3 linked regions of the Homo sapiens genome follow. The protein of the gene in region 1 interacts with the protein of each later gene in a pairwise test. Each region holds a gene or a part of one and is shown on either strand. Other genes may lie near its edges.

What was found.
Region 2: the proteins of SLC6A1 (region 1) and HUNK interact in a two-hybrid assay, tested with the Homo sapiens proteins (one large-scale study listed by BioGRID and IntAct).
Region 3: the proteins of SLC6A1 (region 1) and DRD2 interact in a two-hybrid assay, tested with the Homo sapiens proteins (one large-scale study listed by BioGRID and IntAct).

Annotation. Positions count from the first base shown.
Region 1 is NC_000003.12:11,027,148-11,030,793, forward strand, and holds part of SLC6A1 (sodium- and chloride-dependent GABA transporter 1), read left to right. Parts: intron 1-1,587; coding exon 1,588-1,700; intron 1,701-2,073; coding exon 2,074-2,205; intron 2,206-3,646. UniProt on the Homo sapiens protein: Mediates transport of gamma-aminobutyric acid (GABA) together with sodium and chloride and is responsible for the reuptake of GABA from the synapse. The translocation of GABA, however, may also occur in the reverse direction leading to the release of GABA.
Region 2 is NC_000021.9:31,871,783-31,875,874, reverse strand, and holds the start of HUNK (hormonally up-regulated neu tumor-associated kinase), read right to left. Parts: upstream 2,856-4,092; 5' UTR 2,201-2,855; coding exon 1,940-2,200; intron 1-1,939.
Region 3 is NC_000011.10:113,468,797-113,472,442, reverse strand, and holds part of DRD2 (D(2) dopamine receptor), read left to right. Parts: intron 1-3,646. UniProt on the Homo sapiens protein: Dopamine receptor whose activity is mediated by G proteins which inhibit adenylyl cyclase. Positively regulates postnatal regression of retinal hyaloid vessels via suppression of VEGFR2/KDR activity, downstream of OPN5.

The sequences.
Region 1 (3,646 bases):
AAAATTTATTAGGCAGGAATTTCCTCATCCTAATAAGCCTGGGAGCGCTACGGGAGACCGGGGCTTATTTCATCCCTTATCTACAACTGTAAAAGACAGACGTCCCCAAAGCGGCCATTTCAGAGGCCTCCCCTTAGGGACGCATTCTCTTTCTCAGGGAAGTTCCTTGCTGAGAAAAAGAATTCAGCGATATTTCTCCTATTTGCTTTTGAAAGAAGAGAAATATGGCTCTGTTCCACCTGGCCCACAGGCAGCCAGACGTTAAGGTTATCTCCCTTGTTCCCTGGACATCACTGTTATCCTGTTTTTTTTCCAAGGTGCCCAGATTTCATATTGTTTAAACAATTTGTGCAGTTAATGCAATCATCACAAGGTCCTGTGGCAACATTCATCCTCAGCTTACAAAGATGATGGGATTAAGATATTAAAGTAAAGACGGGCATAGGAAATCACAAGAGTATTGATTGGGGAAGTGATAAGTGTCCATGAAATCTTCACAATTTATGTTCAGAGATTGCAGTAAAGGCAGGTGTAAGAAATTATAAAAGTATTAATTTGGGGAACTAGTGTCAATGAAATCTTCACAATCTATGTTCTTCTGCCATGGCTTCAGCCGGTCCCTCTGTTTGGGGTCCCTGACCTCCCGCAACACTTTGGCTCAATTCAGACATGTTCATCACCATACTACAAAGACCACTAAATCCATGCTTTTGTCTCAGCTCCAAAAATGTTCTCGCCAAGTGGGCCATGCCCACTCTGCTCACCACACAGTCATCAATGCCACAGAACCCAAGGAAAACCCCAGACAGCCCTTCGCTGCACAGCCAGGCAAGCAGCCAACAGGTGGAACCCACTGTATGCAGGGCAGAGGCCCCTGAGGCTCATGGAGGCCACACGGCTGGTCCCTTGAAGAAGTGGGCTGGTTCCGTGAAAGGAGCATTCTCTGCTCCGGTTCTAATCTCCCCTTCAAGGGCAGCCACCATCTCGTTTCTCTGCAATTCCCCAACCATTCCCCCACCCCCATCCGGAGCCAGACCCAGGGAGGTTACAATCTCTTTCCTTCTCATTCCGAGATTTCCTGATCTCTTAGACACCCCCACCAACTACTCAAACACAATACATGCCAAACAAGGCTCCAAAGCCTTCTCCTCCACCATGCTCCCCATCACAGAAGGGTCCCATGGTCCAGTGCCCAGGGTGGAGACCTCAGCATTGTCCTGGACTCTTCCCTCACCCTCATCCTGCAAACCAGCCAATACCAGCACCTGCCCCTCCATCCCCTACATATCTCTCTATCTGGTTGCCTCTCTGCACCTGCACTATCCTCACTACTGGCCAAGCCATGCCATCCCCCATCGAGATGATGGCCACAGCTCCTCACTGGTCCTCTTGCCTCTGGGCACAATTACTATGGCCCCACATCCCCCACCCTCTTTCTGCACCTGGAAAAAGGGGCTGAAAACACTCACTCAAAAGGTTACTCTGAAGATGAAATGAAATAAGGCTTAGAAAATGGGCAGTGTGCTGGAAAGGCTGTAGGTGATGAGTACCTTTTATTTTTCTTCTTTTTTGCACTTCTCTGTTCAGGCCCCGGGCTGGCGTTCCTGGCATACCCAGAGGCGGTGACCCAGCTGCCTATCTCCCCACTCTGGGCCATCCTCTTCTTCTCCATGCTGTTGATGCTGGGCATTGACAGCCAGGTGAGGGCGCCCCCCCCGCACCCCAGGAGCTCTCCATCCCCAGACTCCTCAGTCCCCGAGTAAACAGGGAGAGGAGGCAACTCTTAGGCTGCCAAGAAGATGACCAAAAATTCCAGGTCCCTAGAATGTTCCACTGCATGAAATTTCAGGAAACAGCTCAGCCACCTTCTCCATTTTCCAGAAGGGGAAACTGATGCCCAGAGGGGAGGGACTCTCCTGAGGTCACAAAGTGAGTCACAGGCAGAATCAGGCTGGACCCTGGGCTCTCCTGGCTCGGTGCTGCTGGGCCTCCCGTCCTTCCTTAGAGGGCCAGGCTTTGGGTGGGTTGGGGCTGGGGCTGCTGCAGGTGGCTGACCTCTGTTCCCACCTGAAGTTCTGCACTGTGGAGGGCTTCATCACAGCCCTGGTGGATGAGTACCCCAGGCTCCTCCGCAACCGCAGAGAGCTCTTCATTGCTGCTGTCTGCATCATCTCCTACCTGATCGGTCTCTCTAACATCACTCAGGTAAGCTCAGTAAGCACCTGGCACTCCCCCAGCACTGCCCAGGGCCATGCCCAGGGCCTCCTCTCCCCTCCTCTGTTGTATCCCACCTTTCCTGCCTTCATTGAGCATCATCTCTGTGCCAAGCTCTGGGCACATAACAGTGAGTCAGATGGGGTCCCTGCCCTCCAGAGGCTCCCAGGCTGGTGGAGACACAAACATTGAGCTAAGACATATAGGACAGAGCTAGAGAATGCAGCACCTAACTGGACTCGGAGCACCAGGGACTGCTTCTTGGAGGAGGGGATGTAGAAATTGAGCTTTGAAAGGCCCACAGAAGGCCTGGCATGGTGGCTCATGTCTATAATCCCAGCACTTTGGGAGGCAGAGGCCGGCGGATCACCTGAAGTCAGGAGTTTGAGACCAGCTTGGCCAATGTGGTGAAAACCCGTCTCTACTTAAAAAAATAAAATAAAGTAAATAAATAATACAAAAATTAGTCAGGCATTGGGGCAGGTGCCTGTAATCCCAGCTACTTGGGAGGCTGAGGTAGGAGAATTGCTTGAACCCGGGAGGCAGAGGTTGCAGTGAGCTGAGATCGCGCCATTGCACTCCAGCCTGGGCAACAAGAGCGAAAAACTCTGTCTCAAAAAAAAAAAAAAAAAAGAAAGAAAGAAAGAAAGACAGAAAAAGAAAAGAAAGGCCCACAGAAATTAGCCAGAAAGTCAAATTGGAGTTGAGCCTTTGAAGTTGACACTGCCCAAAGCTTTCTTTCATTCCCATTTTTCTTTTGTATTGACATGAATGAGAAATGCTCACATAGCTGGTGAATTGTGCAATAAATATAAACGACTCTAGCAACATGAGTTCAGCACTGCGGGTCTGATTTTTATAATCCACAAATCACCCCCACCCCCCCCCCACCAGATCCAAATGTAGTTCTGCTCCAGAGTTAGTATTCATTCATCCCTTCATTCATAGTTGTCAAATACCTACTATGGGCCTGGCATGACCCCAGAAATTTGGCAATTAATGTGGCAGATACTACCATGTCTGCTGTCTTGGAGCTTACATTTTGGTGGACAAGACTGACAGACAAATTAGATGATTTTGGAGAGTGTCAAGTGCCCTGGAGAAAAGAGGACAGCAGCACAGAGAATGGCCAGTAGCACAGGAGGGGCGCTCCCTCAGACAAGGTAGTCAAGGGAGGTCTCTCTCTCCAAGAAAGCGACAGTTGAGCTGAGACTTAAATGATGAGAAAGAGCCAGCCAGAGAAAGATCTGGGGAAAGAGAGCAGAGTAGGTGCAAAAGCCCTGAGGCATTTGAGGGACGAGGGAAGCCAGAGTGGTGGAGGCAGAGGGAGTGAGGCAGTGGGTGGGAGACGAAGAACCAGCCCATGCGGACCTTGCAGGCCAAGACATTTGGGTGGGATGGGATGGGATGGGATGGGATGGGATGGGATTGG
Region 2 (4,092 bases), on another chromosome or scaffold:
AGCAAGGTGGAGGGAAGCCAGAAAAGAAGTCTGTGCACCAGGGCAGGCGAGAAGAATGTACTTGCAGTGTTTGCCATGACGTTGTGAGCATAAAGACTCGCTTCTTTCCGTTATGTTTAGAGAGGAAATATGCACAACCAGCCTGAATCCTATACGTTTCCAATGAAAATAAACTTCCATCGCCAGTGCCAACAGGAATTTACACAGGGCCAGGAGAAGAGAGCTCACTCTAATTAGCCGCATCCTCGCGCCCTGAACGGACCCGCAGTGTGGAAGTCAGACAGCTCACTACGAATCGAATCGAATCGAATCGAGGAGTGTAAGTGTGCCTCGCTCCTGCGGACTAGAACGAGGTTTGGAGGTTTTTCCTTTTTCTTTGAAGACTTACTCAAGTTCATACTGAACGCTCCTTTTTTGCATGGGAATTCAGGCAGGAGGCACTTCTAAAAACTACTCACTCTATCCCCACATACCCATAATAAAGCGGTGCCTCACTCAAAACGGCTGTAGGGAACACAGGGAAAATGACAAGGGTGACGGAGACCTGCATTCACAGGCAAAAGGCTCCAAGACAAAGAGGGGAAATGGGGTGGGGAGGGAACTACAGGTGGGGTGAGGCTAGAGACAGGCAGGAAGGGCAGGTTGGCCCTGTGACCAGGGGTTTCACAGGGCAGCCCCAGGCTGGGCAGAGGCCCCCAGGTCGGAAGGCAGAGGGCTCGGCTCCCAGGCCACCTGCTCGGTTGGGAAGTGAACTCCGCCTTCCCTCCTTGCGGCTGACGCCTCCCTGACCCACGGACCACACAAAGGAGCTGGTCCCCCTCCAGGTTTGAGCCACCCCCAGCCTGGGGGCAGTCTTGAGCCCGAGATGACAGGAGCTTGGGACAGCTCCAGCCTGGATTGGCTCTGAGCTCGGGCAGCTCCAGCCTGGGGTGACCCGGCCTCAAAAGCGAGTCACCAAGCTCTTGGGTTTCTTCTCACAGCTCTAAGTTACACCTTCCATCTTACCTGCCCCTCGCCTGGCAAGGGTTCACAACCATCTAACTTCCAACAAGGCTGGAGAGGTGCCCCTTTTGGTCTCGCGGAGGTCCCCTTTCCTTTCCCCTCTTCTAGAAAGATAAGAAGGCATCTCCCAGTCTCTGGGGGGAGGTATCTGTAGTTCTGTTCCTGCCAGTAGCAGGGTCTTCACTGCAGCTCCCACCCTGAGGCTGGAGGGCACAGAGGAGCTGGGGGAACGGAGAGAAGGGGATGAGAATGGCGGGGATGAGAATGGTGGGTGATGAGGGGGCAGGGGTGGGAGGGTTGAGTGGATAGAGAGGAGCACAGGTTGAGGGATGGACAAGTGGAGGGCGGAGGCAAAAACCCTCCTCTGAGCACGAAAAATTCCCTAGCTGCCAAAAAACATTCCCTAGCTGCCGGAGCCCACAGGTGGGAAGGAATGCAGGATCTCAGCCTTCTCCCACCTCCTCCGAGAGCCCAGGACGGGGATCAGACTCTAAGCTCCCCCCAGAGGCTGGCTGTTAGCTTTCCTGCCCCCCCCGCCCCCCGACATAAGAGCCCACCTCCTCTAGCCCTGGTTCCCGCCTCGCCACGGATCCGCCGCCCCTGCCGGCCTGAAGGGCAGAGGGGCCCCATCCCGCCCCCCGCGCTAGTGTCGCCAGGCGGCGCCCTTCCACGAGCAGAACGGCCGCGCGGGACGCTTCCCGGGGCAAGGCCGTCCCCTCCCAAGCCCCCAACCCCCGGGCAGCGGACCGCAGGCCGCCTTCGGGAAAGGCTGCGAGATGCTGAGCGCGCGTTTTAACCCAACAGGAAAGCCGGGCGGAGGGGGAAGGCGCTTGGCCCGGGACTGCACACTGGGACTCCCAGTGCAGTGCTCCCCGCGGGGTCCTGGCCGCCGACTCCCGCCCCTGTGCCCCAGCCCCACGGCGCCCGGGAGACTCACCTTCTCCCCGGTCAGCACGTGCAGCCCCTCGCGCACCTTGGCAAAGGAGCCCTCGCCCAGCTTCCTGCTGCCGATGAGGTAGTTGCCCACGCGCTTGTGGTGCTGGAAGTCGCGGAGCCGCTCGCGGGGCACGCCGCTCACCCAGGCAGGCAGGAAACTTCCCTCGCAGGCCGCCGCGGGCCTGGCCGCGTCCTCCGCGCCGCCGCCGCCCCCAGGCGCCGCCGGCTCCCCCAGGAGCCCGTCCCCCGCCGCCGCCGGCATCGCGCTCGCCGCGGCCCGCGCGGCTCCTGCTCGTCTCCCGCGCTCGCAGCTCCTCCTCCCCAGGCTCTTCGGCTTCCCCGGCTTCTCCCGCCGCCGCCCTGGGCCCAGCCCCGCCTGGGTCTCCGCACCCAGAGCCCGGGGCCGCCGCGATCACGCCCCCCGCGCCGCCCAGCGAGGCGCGTAGACAATAGCGGCTGCCCAGGGGACGCGGGACCGGGGACCCCGCCCCCAAAAGTTCTTCCTCTTAGGGTCGCCCGGGCCCCTTTCAGGACACCAGGATCCCGCCCCGGGTCCCGTCCAGGAAGCTAATGACAGTCGCCCTGCTCGGGCGCGCGGGGTGGGGCGCGGTCCGGCGGCGCCTGGGTCCCGGGGTCCGGGTGCCTGGGTCCGGGAGCCCGGGTGCCTCCGCAGCCTCCGCCTCGCCGCCGCCGTCTGGCCCGCACGGGCTTGGGTCGGGCTCCCGCGATCGCTCCTAGCCGTGCGCTGGGCGGCCGCTCCCGCCGGAGAGAAGCGCGCGGCGGGCTGCCGGCGCCCTCTGGAAGGCAGCAGAAGAAAGCCCCATTCAGTTTGAATTTGCAGAAATTTAATCCGCTCGCGGGCGGCGGGAACAGATGCGAGCTCCACTCCGCAGCCCGTGCACTTTCAAATCCCTAGTAGCCCCTCCTTCCCCGCGCGCCACAGTCAAACTCGACCCTCGCTGGAGAGGGGAGGGCCCGGGGAGGGGAGCGGCGGAGTGGACGGAGAAGCCACCTGAGCGCCAGACAGGGAGAACCTGCGCGGCCTCGGAGGCGCGCGCTCCCGGGCCGCCCAGGTCGGGCCGCCTCCGGCTGCGCCTCTTGCCCGGATTCTGGGCTTGGGTTTTCTGGACCTTTCGGCGGTGAAATCCCCCACTGGCCGCACCCACCCGGGGCGGGGGGAAGGGGGAAGGCTCTCGAACTCCGTGGACTGTGAGTCGGGTTGCGTGCCCGGCCCTGAGTCCGCCACACAGTAGGGCCCCCTGGACCGGGGGTGGAAGGATAGATGGATGGCTGGAAGAAAGGGTGGGGAGGCGGCCAGGCGTCTGCCCGGGCTCGCACGCAGCCTGGTTGGCTGTGTTGGAGGAGGCGCAGCCACAGCAGTAATAGTAGCAGCAGCAATGTAGGAACCAGGGCGTTTGCTGCCTCTGCTTGTAGCTTACACCTTCTTTGCCTTCCATTGAAATGATGCCTGTGATTGCAGGAGGTGGACCGGCGCTCGCCTCTCTTCGATGCTTTTGTTCTGCAAGCGCTGTGACTGTGCTCATCGCATAAACAATTGCAACTGCCCTGACGACACTGGACCCTCTCCCAGGATCCCCAACGTCTTCTCAAACCGAAAATGAAGAATCTTGTGAGGGAGAAGGAGGAGGGTAGGTAGGAGGAGGCATTTACAAAATGCTACCTGTTGAGGTGCCCGCATTTGATGGAAACTTCACCCCGATCATGCAACATCAGAGCTGAAAGGAAGGATTTGGTCCTAACAAAGTTCCTTTCATTGTTTATTCCTGAGTAAACAAGTATGACATCGACCCATAGCAATGCTTTGAGATTGGGAGTGGGGGGTGGGGGAACAACAGCTGTCATCAATCCAGTGTCTGGGGGTCTCGCTGACCCATCTGAAGAGGGACGCAGAGAAATGCCTGCTTTCAATACATCTAATTTTAAATACGCTACTATATTCATCCACCTACCTGTTACAAGTCACCAGCCTCAGTTATTATGACGGAACATACTGCGTTTTCTGTTGTTCTGTCTCATTGTTCCCGTTTACCAATATTAAAGATACAGCTTAAAATGTTTTTCTTGCTGTGCTGAAGGGACTTCTTTGCTCCCACCGGCCTTGACTATTTCAGTAACGTTCATTCAATCCTTTTA
Region 3 (3,646 bases), on another chromosome or scaffold:
TCTTTCTTTGATACTATGGGAAACAAATGGGAACTTAGGGTCATTAGAAATATGGCCTCACATACTCCTGAGATTGTCTTGCTGAAGCCGGACTGGTCTGGGGTCACCATTCTCTGAATAAACAAGTATAAGGGGAAAGACGTGGGGACTCTGCCTGGAGAGAATGGTTTCCATCTCCCCTGCAAGTAAAAGTTACATTTTAGTGTTAACAAAAAAGTGTGGCTGTGAAGATAGCACTGTGTGTATGTGTATGTGTTTGTGTGTGTTTGCATACACGTGCATGCACACATATGAGCACATCGCCCAGGAGAGACAGATATGATGAGACTTCCTTGAGCCAATCCTGTGTTGGCACCCACCACTTCTCCCCGCTTTGTGGCTTAATACCTATGAATCTCCAACAGTGAAGGTGCCTCAACACCTAGGAAGAGAGAAGAATCAAGTTGAGGTTTTATAATGCCAGAACCCTAAGTCATATTTGTAATATCTCCCAGAATCAAGTTATATATCAGCAGGCTACAGTTACCTAAGAGTTGAGGTCTTGAAAATAGCTTAGAACAGCAGCCCAGTCATTTGCATTTTCCTGGGATATAGTTTATAGGACTTTAGATTCTTAGGTTATCTTCTTGGGCTCCTCAGAGGTCATGCCAGATGCCCCTGACTCCAAACAGGGAAGCTGTTTCCTTAGTCCAGAAATACAATGGTCTTTCTTCTTTTATTAAAGTTCTCCTAAACAGAACTTTTTCCAATGAATTTTCCAGTTTCTGAACACCAGGACTGGACTCAGCAACTGGAGCTTCTCCATCCTACCAGGTACTCTGCTTAGCAGAGGAGCATCCTGCATATAGGAAACACTCGGAAACCATGGGCAGCAGAAAGGACACAGGTTGATTCAACTTCTCAGCAGGCACCCTCCTTTGTAGGTAGCCTCTTACTTAGCTGAACCCCAGCACCATTTTCCCTCTTCTCACCTCCAGTAAGGCATTTTGTGGCCTTGGAAGGACCTTGGGATTAGGTATAAGCCCTTCTGCTCTCCAGAATATACCATGGAGCCACTAAGGATGCACAAATTGCTTATTTACCAATTTGAGCAGTAGACTAATGTTATCTCTGGCCTTTTAAATTACTCTAATGGTGTTGGAATCTAATATTAATATACTTTTGCCTCTCACCTGTTCCCATGACCAATGTAATTGGAGATTTCTTTCCTCTGTACTTAAATGGATGCAAAACTTTCTTATTTTTTGACAATAGAATCATATTATCTAAATGTACAGGCCTGGAAAATAGCTTGATTATAGTGTCAGCACATGGGGATGGAGGAGTAATAAAACTATAAGACTCAGCCACTTGGTTTTCTTTGATTTGGGTCCAGAGAAAGGAGAGAAATTTGCCCTCAGAATTGCAGATTTTTCTTTTCTTTTTCCTTTCACCTTAATCTGGTAAATGGGTTAAATCAATACCCTTGGCAGCTGGGATGCCCTTGGAAGGCACAGCCTCTTCTCTCCCTAGGATACATGAGAGTGTTTCACTGCAGAGGGGCCAAGGACCCTGGTGGCTCTAGTGTATAGGGAGGAGTCAGAGATGACACACTGGGGTCTGAGGCCTCCCTCTTCCCCTGGATAGAAGAAACTGTGCTGCTGCAGTGCTTTGAACTCAGAAGCCTGGAAACTCCTAGGGGCATTTGGGAGAGTATGGGACAGTGTACAGAGGTGAGAGCAGAGGAGAAGTAGACTCTTAGGAGGCCCTGAAAGAGGCTGATGTTAAATATGCATTGAATATAGGTATCAGCTTAGTGTAGTTTGGGCAATTTTGTCATAATCTGATGTCACCTGTAAGGATTTTTACTTTTTCCAGTAGGAGATGAGGGAATTCTTTGCTGTCTGAAGGGACAGGGAGGGGAAGGAGGGAAAACCTCTGGTTTCCCCTGCAGCCCTCTGGGTAATGTCAGCTTGCTTCCAGACAGAGGGCGGTAAGGGAAGTCAGGCAGACCTGGCTCCCAGGAGCTCCATCAATAGGCCTGCAGTTAGCCTGGGCAGTCCTGCCTTCCAGGAAGCTGTCGCTCAGCACAGAACTGCAGCTGTGGCCCCAACGATAATCCCCTGCAGATGTCTGGGAGCCAAAGGGAGTCCTGGCGCCTGTTCATTTGTTATTGGTCTCCTTCAGAACGTGCCTGCCCTTCTCATTTCCACCCCCTCCTTGTTGTTATTGTTTGGGTTCTAAGTGGCCCAGCAGGAGAAAGACATTAGAAATGAAATTATTTTTGTTACATGCTACATCATTGCCTCCTCTCCTACCTGCTACCCCAGGCAGCACCATCACTAGCAACTCCCAGGAACTCTTGATATGGGAAAGTGGCTTAGTACCAGGCTTCCCTAGAATGAGAAGTGGTCCTGTTCACCAGACCCTCCTTTGCTGGCCTCATCATCATAACGGCCAGCATTTATTGTGCACTTACTGTGTGCAGGGCGCTGTGCTCAGCACTTGACATAGGTTCTTCATTTAAACTCCCAATCCTGCAACAACTCTGTGAAATAGGAACCCTTGTTTTTACATTTTTTGTTTGTTTATTATTTATTTATTTATTTATTATTTTCATTTTTAGAGAGAGGTCTTGCTCTGTCACCCAGGCTGGAGTGCAGTGGTGCAATCATAGCTCACAGCAGCCTTGAACTCCTGGGCTCAAGTGATCCTCCTGCTTCAGCCACCCGAGCAGCTGGGAGTACAGGTGCATGCCAGCATGCCCAACTAATTTTTTAAAGAATTTTTTGTAGATATAGGGCCTTGCTTTGTTGTCCAGTCTGGTCTTGAACTCCTGGCTTCAAACGATCCTCCTGCCTCAGAGTAACCCTTATTATTCCATTTTGCAGAGGAAGAAGCATAGGCTTAGAAAGGTAAGTGGTTTGCACAAGGTCACACGTTTCATGTGTGAGACAAAGATTCAAAACCAGACTGTTTAAGGCTAAAGCAATAGCCCTCTCTGATACGTAAGTGGCATAAAGAACAAGAAAAGGAGGAGAATAGGGATAAGAAGATAATTCTTTAGTGAATGAAAGGGCAGTAATCTTTGTGTATGATACCAGGAAAGTGAAGAGGGAGACAGCAGATGGAGAAGGATGAATAAAATAACTCCTTGGGATTCTTAAATTTGAGAACCAGCGAGGAAGTGTTCTGTACCTGGATCTGGGTCCCTTTGGATGAAATGCACTGGGCGTAAACCTCAGCAAGCAGTGGGAGCAGGAGGGAGGGCGGCAGGAGCAGGAGGGAGGCAGGGTCAACTAAGCCTTCCAACCTGGGGGAGGAGCTGGGAGGAGGTGTAGACGGATGTTTTGTCAAGCTCTTCTGGAACTGTGATGACATTACCTTCTGTCCCACATCTCTTTGAGGTGAACTGAACTGTCCAAAGGATGAAAGCCAGACTTCTGCCAACAATTAGGTCTTTGGGTTTGCTTTCTTATTACCATAGAAGGAAAACTTGTTATATCTCCAAGACTAAGCTTCCACATTTTACAGAAATGTGAGGGCGGGATGGCCTGGGATCCTGGACAGACACAGGAGTGACTCATGAGAGCTGCCTTTAAAAAATGAGCTGATTAGCCAGACGCGGTGGCTCACGCCTGTAATCCCATCCCTTTGGGAGGCTGAG